2 linked regions of the Homo sapiens genome follow. The protein of the gene in region 1 purifies or fractionates together with the protein of each later gene. This does not show direct contact. Each region holds a gene or a part of one and is shown in the gene's direction. Other genes may lie near its edges. The genes, in order: PTGES3L-AARSD1 and SEPTIN8.

Region 1 (3,818 bases):
CCTCAAGTGATCTGTCTGTCTCAGCCTCCCAAAGTGCTCACATTACAAATGTGAGCCACCAAACCCGGCCTCTGTGTGTGTGTGTGTGTGTGTGTGTGTGTGTGTGTGTGTGTGCGCGTGTTAAGCCAGACAACTTCATGGGATGTTAAAACTAGCAGTATAAAAACTCACATCATAAATAATTGGCCCCCAGTAAATCACACACTGTCGTTATATTATTTGGTTTCAGTTATAAAAACACTAGCCGACTCCAATCTGGATTTGTGTTAAATTTTCTTTTAAGAAGGGGATCAATTTACTTTTCTCAAATTAATTCCAGTGATGTTTTAAAGATGGGAGCAGTTGCCTGACCAGTTCTGGCTGCAACCATTCTTCTATGGACCATCAATGTGCAGATTGTTCTTCCTTCACTCCCTTCTCCCTTGTGATTATTTTTTCTTCCCACTAGCTTTTGAAGAAGGTCAGCACCAAGAGACCTCCACCTGCCATGGATGATTTGGATGTAAGTAAAGCCTTCCCCTCAACCCTTCAGTTTCTTTGTAGCCCTTAAAAACAACCCACTAGAGAGCTCCTATCCCAGTTCCTAGCACACAGTAGTTCTCAGTGCCTGTTAACCAAATTTGAGTTTGACCCAAGAGGGCTAATATTCTTTTTTTGGGGGGTGGGGGAGGAGTTTCACTCTTTCGCCCAGGTTGGAGTGCAGTGGCCCGATCTTGGCTCACTGCAACCTCTGCCTCCTGGGTTCAAGAGATTCTCCTGCCTCAGACTCCTGAGTAGCTGGGAATATAGGTGCCTGCCACCACGCCCAGCTAATTTTTGTATTTTTAGTAGAGACAGGGTTTTGCCATGTTAGCCAGGCTGGTCTCGAACTCCTGGCCTGAGGTGATCCACCCGCCTCGGCCTCCCAAAGTATTGGGATTACAGGCGTGAGCCACCACGCCTGGCCCAAGAAGGCTAATATTCTTCTCCAGGCTTTAGAAAACCCTAGCAAGACCCTCCTGCTTTCCATCTACCCCTCTGTTTCTCCATCCTAGAGAAGACCTACCCCAGCTGTAAGGAGCAATAGCATTAATTAAAATTCTGAAACTAGGGTGGGTGTGGTGGCTCACGCCTGTAATCCCAGCACTTTGAGAGGCCAAGGCAGGTGGATCACTTGTGCTCAGCAGTTTGAGACCAGCCTGGGCAACAGGGCAAAACCCTGTCTCTACCAAAAGTACAAAAATTAGCCAGGCACAGTAGCCTATAATCCCAGCTACTCAAGTGGCTGAGGTGGGAGGATCGCTTGAGACTGTGAGGCAGAGGTTGCACTGAGCTGAGATCATGCCACTGCACTGCAGCTGGGTGATGAAGCAAGACCCTGTCTCAAAAAAAAAAAAAAAAAAAAAAAAAGTCCTGAAACTAATGATGTATGACAAAGTAGTGTTGGTTTACTTAACATCCAAAGTAAGTTAAAACCTTTCATATTAGCCCCCTAAGTTGGGTGGTTTAGGAAATCACAAAAAGAAACTTGGAGAACAGGAGAGAGGAAGCAGTATTTGTTAACACAAATGTTCCTGCTTTGCAGGGTCTACAGGTGCTTTGTCTTTTTTCCCCCCCGCCCCCAGGATGATTCTGACAGTGCTGATGATGCAACAAGTAATTAACTTTCTGTGACGCAAAGCTGGGAAGGCAGCTGTGGCTATTTTCCAGTTGTTCTAGAAAGCTAGCGCCTAGGCCTTTGTCAGCGCTTTGGCTGTGCACCAAGTTCTTCTGAGATCTCTGAACTTTCCTAGAAGCTCTTTATTAAGGGTCGTCCTTCAAGCTTGTCTTCCTCCTAGGCACTTGACTATGGCTCCACATCAGATGCAGGGTCGGGGAGGGGTAGACTGGTAGGGCTTCTGATTTCTTACTGATTGGTTTCTAATCTCTGTGTTTAGGCCACTTGATTATTTGAGTATGTGTGTGTATGTGGCAAAACAAAAGCCAAAGAAGAATGCAGATTATAGAAATCTCTACTATGTGTGCATATGGGGCAAAGCAAAAAGCCAAAGAAGAAACAGATTATAATAAATCTCTAGGAACTGTTCTCTGTCTGTTTCCTTCTTGTACTTATTCCTCCTGGTGGCAAGCCTCTTCTCCCTCTAGTAACCAAGCTGGGGTGCTTCCTCTTGCCCAGATTTGTGCTCTGATTTCTTACAGCTAATTCTGTCATCTCTAGAACCAGCCACTTCAGCTTCCTGCACACTCTAGAAATCTCTTTATACTTTTTTTTTTTTTTTCCGAGATGGAGTCTTGCTCTGTCGCCCAGGCTGGAGTGCAGTGGTGCAGTCTCTGTTCACTGCAACCTCCACCTTCTGGGTTCAAGCAATTCTCCTGCCTCAGCCTCCCAAGTAGATGGGACTACAGATGTGCACCACCAGGCCCAGCTAATTTTTGTATTTTTAGCAGAGATGGGGTTTCACCATGTTGGCCAGGCTGGTCTCGAACTCCTGACCTCAAGTAATCCACCCACCTCAGCCTCCCAAAGTGCTAGGATTACATGTATGAGCCACCACACCCGGCCCTCTTTATACTTTTAAAACTGATTGTTACTCTAGTTAATGTCTATGTTTATTTGTCCAACAGCTATTCTATTTGTCCATAAACTTTTTTGAGTGCCTAATATGTACAGTTGACTGTAACTTAAACAAAATAAATGCATTGCCTATAGACTTTGCTCTTGAACTCATGGTAAACTATTAGGATTTACTTTAAAAGTAAACTTTATTTATTTATTTATGTTTGAGATAGAGTCTTGCTTTGTTGCCCAGGCTGGAATACAGTGGTACATTCATTATTCATGGAGCCCTGACTTCCTGGGCTCAAGTAATCCTCCTGCCTCAGCCTCCTGGGTAGCTAGGACTACACTACAGCTGACTAAGTTAAAAAATATTTTTGTAGGCTAGGTGCGGTGGCTTATGCTTGTAATCCCAACACTTTGGGAGGCTGAGGTGGGTGGATCACCTGAGGTCAGGAGTTCGAGACCAGCCTGACCAACATGGAGAAACCCTGTCTCCACTAAAAATACAAAATTAGTCAGGCGTGGTGGCTCATGCCTGTAATCCCAGCTGCTTCAGAGGCTGAGGCAGGAGAATGGCTTGAATCCAGGAGGTGGAGGTTGCTGTGAGCCGAGATCACACCATTGCACTCCAGCCAGGGCAACAAGAGCGAAACTCCGTCTCGCTCTATAAAATATATATATATTATATATTAATTTTATATATAAAATATATATTATATATATTAATTTTATATATTATATATAAATTATATATTTAAAATATATAATATATAAATTATATATGATACATATTATATATATTTTATATATTATATATCTACATATATAAATACATATATATTTATATATTATATATTATATTATATATTATATAATATATATTTTATATATTATATTATATATTATATAATATATATTTTATATATTATATTATATATTATATAATATATATTTTATATATTATATTATATATTATATAATATATATTTTATATATTATATTATATATTATATAATATATATTTTATATATTATATTATATATTATATAATATATATTTTATATATTATATTATATATTATATAATATATATTTTATATATTATATTATATATTATATAATATATATTTTATATATATGTAAAGACCTTGTCTTTAGGACAAACTATTTTTTTGTAAAGATTTGCTTGTTGCCCAGGCTGCTCTCAAACTCCTGGCCTTAAGCCTCCTTCCTCGGCCTCCCAAAGTGCTGGGATTACAGGCCTGAGCCACCATCCCTGG
Region 2 (3,818 bases), on another chromosome or scaffold:
TGGCATCCCCTGTGTGTGGGTGTGTGGAGCAGCCCTCTGAGGAGGGTGTGTTGCCTCTTGCCTTCCTCGGGCAGCCAGATTCCTGTCCACTCTTGCTGTGCCCCTCCTCCTAACTGGAACCTTGACTCTGGGGCTCAGCCCTTTCTTCCCCGAGGGCCAGCTCCGGTGTTTTCTCCTGCCAGAATCTCACAGGTTCAGACCCCGTGGTGAGCAACCCTTTAGGGCTTGGGGAAAGTGAAGCTGAGGGGGAGAGGAAGAAACGTGCAGCACACAGCCTCACACTGGCGTTCTTCCCAGCCAGTCACTTACCCCCATCTCTGCTTTATCCCCAGCACCATCTGTCACTTCCGTTGTCACCCCTGCAATCTTGATACTTCCCCAAGAAGCGGGCTCTTCAGGGAGTACCTAGTCCCTCCTGAAGCAGGAATTGAGAGCCCGCACCCAAATGAGGCTCAAGGTCTCTGTCAGAGTGATATCTCCCCATCTTGTAAAAACGGCCAGTAGCCTCCTTGCTGAGCCATGCCGAAGAAAAACGGGAGCTGAGCAAGAGATGCCCGTGCAGCTCCCAGGGCACATGTGAGCACCACCTGCAGAGCTGCAGCTCTGCCCTCTCCCCCAGGAGGTGAGTCTGCCTGCCCTCCCTCTCTCTTGGGCATCAGACCATGCTATGTGTGCCCACCTTAGGAAGGTCTCCTTGGGGTCTTGATTGCAGTGGGTCAGAGCTGCGGGGCTGATGGAAAGCATTGGTCATTCCAGGGAGCACATGCTAAAAGACTGACCATGATAGGAACAGAGAGGATGGCAAGGAGGAGACCAAGCTCAGGGCCAAGGAGGAGGGAGACTGGATGGAGCCTGGGAACCCAGGGTCTGACTTGTGTCAAAAACCTTGGATGGCAAGGAGGGCAGTGGGTGCTTTGAGCGCATTATCTTGTTGATGCCAACAGCCCAAGGTTGGGTGAGGATGCAGACTTTGGTCATTGGCTAGCAAAGGTAGGGGGAACAAGATCCAAATTCCAATACCAGAGATGACAGAGAGGGTGGATACCTTGGCGTTTTGAGCCCTCGGATGGGCTAGGTGGAAGCATATATTATATTTGGGGCAGTAACTACCACGAATGTCTCTGTGGCTCAAGTCCAGCTACCAGAGGCGAGCAGCTGCAGGATGGTAGAGCAAAGGGCCTGAGGGCCAGCTGGCCTCTGTGTGTCCCTTGCAGCCTCCCCAGCCTTCCTGCCTCTGTGCTGCCAGCTTGGGTTTCAGGATCCCCAGGCATGGCCCCCAAGGCAAAAGCTTTGCCAGATAACCAGATGCAGAGCTATGCATGCAGGAGGGAGACACATCTGCCTGGGGAGGAGACGCCCTCCCAAGGTCTCCATGCCCTTGTGGTAGAGCTGGGGCACTCTGTTGGCTTCTTTTGGAGCCATCTGAACCTTCAGAGCTCCTGAAAGAACTGGCTGGGAAGAGGCAGCGGAGGACGGGGCAGGGGGCATCTTGGCTCTGCGTGCAGTTGCCCTACATGTTCTTGGGGCAAATTAGATATTCTCCTCAGGATACACGGCTTTCAGGTGTTCCCTATCCTAGAGGTCAGATTAGAGGGACAGAACCAGCAGAGGAAGGTACAGGGGCCCATGTCTGCTGGCAGGTGGCTGGCTGTTTTCTGAGGGGGCTCCAGGGCTTGGGCTGCCTGATGCTTGGGGTTCAGGAGGGGCTGTGGGTATGGACCCAAGCCCACTTGCCAGACATGGCTCTTGGGCCTGGGTACAAACCTGACATTCTGCCTGGTGTTGGAGTGAATGGACAAGCAGCAGAGAAGTATAGCAGTGCCACCCCCATACCTCTGCCAACCCGTATTGGTGCCCATGCATTCCTCCGTCCCTTTCCAGCACTGGCATCCATCGTGGGGTTGGACAGAAGGCGGGGCACCTTTGCTGCCCACATTCTCCCTCCAAGGGTTTCATTTGCTGTGAAACAGAGGCTGCCTTCTCCTGCCAGTGATACCCAGACCACTCGTGGCTTTCCCTGTTACAAGGCAGTGGTGGCTGCCACTGGAGTCCCTGAGCTAAGTAAGAAAATATGAATGCCTGGAGTTCTAGTACATTCTGCAGCCCAGAGCACCTTCCCCATCTCCTCTGTGGTGGGATAGACCACTCCCTCTCAGGCAGCACAATAAAGGCCAAGAATGTGTCTGTCCTAGGCCTGGGGGTTGGGGTGGCGAGTACTGGCCCAGCTACCAGTAACTGTGCTCTTAGCTTCCTGGAAATCTGATTTTGATGGGAAAAGCTTGAAACACACTATCCCAAATTAATAAGCTCCAGCCTGGCTGGCTGTGTGCAGAAAGGAAAGACAGTGCCTCTTAGTGAGACAGAGAAACAGAGAGAATGGAGTATTGGGGTCAGGGGATGGTTTTGCTCCCAAAATTCCTTCTCTTCCCAGGATGGGTGGAGTAGGACTGGCCTTGTGAGGATGATTGGCTTCCTGTTACCTTGACTGCCGTCATGTTGGGACCATGGCGGGTGATCCTTGCTTGAATCTTCTCTCAAGTTTTCTGTTGCCACTGTAGGAGAAAGATGCTTTGGCTCCCAGGTGTCCTCTTGATTTGGGACAGGTATATCCTGCCTCTATTCTTCCTTCCTGGCCCCGGGTAGCAGCATCCCACCCCCACCCTCCCACGTATGTCTCCTTGGTTATTTCCCGTAACCTCTGACCTGGGCTTAGAGGCTTGCTGTGGAATCCTGGGACCAGAGCCGAAGCCTTTCCTGGGAAAATTCCTAGGATTCCTCTCAGGCTCAAGGACAGTTGTGCTTATGACCGCGACCACGGGTTCTGGCTAGAGGCCTCTGCTCTGGCTATTTAAGGCCCAGGCTCCTGGGAGGAGCTGGAGCCGGGGCTAGCATAGTTTGTGCCAGGAACATGGGTGGAGAAAGCTTCCAGTGGTCCATTGACTCCTGAGTCCATTGCTCAGTTACTTAATAGGGCCACCCCCAGGGCTGGAGCTCCCCTGGGGAGTGGGCTTCCTGTCTGCCTGACTGGGTGTACAGGTGAGTGGGTGCTAGGCATGGGAGCCCAGAGGAAGAAAAGCATCCAAAGTCCAAGGCACTGGAGAACTCTGGAAGGCCTGAGGTCTGGGGGCTGCTCTTTGTCCATTACTCGGTAGCCAATCCACCTATGGTGGGGTATCCTTTCTACTCCCACTGCAACAACCAGCCTAGTTTGGGGGTTTGGATCACAGGGGTCTTTATTTACCCACAGCTTCCCCGGCTCTGTTGGTTTAGAGATTCAGTAGATTTCCAGTTCCTTCTGGATAAAAACCTGTTTTTGTGTGTTGGCAACCATGAGATGCAGTTTCTTCCCAGATCCCACCTTGTTTCATGGTAAAAGGGACAGCTCCTCTTGGCTGGTGATGAGGGCTGCTCTAGGAGGCTCAGACAGAGCATTTCCTATCAGGAAAAGGGCGTCCTAGTTATCCACTGGGCTGCGTAACAAAATGCTGTTCTCTACTTTGTCTTGGACGGCCGGGCATGGAGGCACGCAGCCGGCCTGAGAAGTTATTGTTTTGGTTGTTGTCTTTGATGTGCCAAAGAAATGATGACACAGAAGCCTGGGGCCTGGCTCAGGAGCCAAAAGCTTGTTAGTGATTAGAGAGGGGATAATGGCCCCATGGAGTTTCTCATTGCATATGTAGAGCTCAGAGCTGCCAACTCCCTCTATCCTGGGACTTTGAAGACATATACAACGCTCACCCCTGTGTGAGCACCTCAGGGAGCTGGGTGTGTGGAATGAGCCAGAGGCTTTGGGTCCACCTCTCTCTGGGGTCCAAGTT

Evidence for each region.
Region 2: the proteins of PTGES3L-AARSD1 (region 1) and SEPTIN8 fractionate together in Homo sapiens (co-fractionation; one large-scale study listed by BioGRID). This does not show direct contact.

The regions. Positions count from the first base shown.
Region 1 is NC_000017.11:42,966,973-42,970,790, reverse strand, and holds part of PTGES3L-AARSD1 (PTGES3L-AARSD1 protein), read left to right. Parts: intron 1-448; coding exon 449-502; intron 503-1,604; coding exon of another isoform or gene 1,605-1,643; exon of another isoform or gene 1,644-2,688; intron 2,689-3,818. Other genes in the region: putative protein PTGES3L, read left to right, coding at 449-502, 1,605-1,643. UniProt on the Homo sapiens protein: Functions in trans to edit the amino acid moiety from incorrectly charged tRNA(Ala).
Region 2 is NC_000005.10:132,770,727-132,774,544, reverse strand, and holds part of SEPTIN8 (septin-8), read left to right. Parts: intron 1-3,818. UniProt on the Homo sapiens protein: Filament-forming cytoskeletal GTPase. May play a role in platelet secretion. Seems to participate in the process of SNARE complex formation in synaptic vesicles.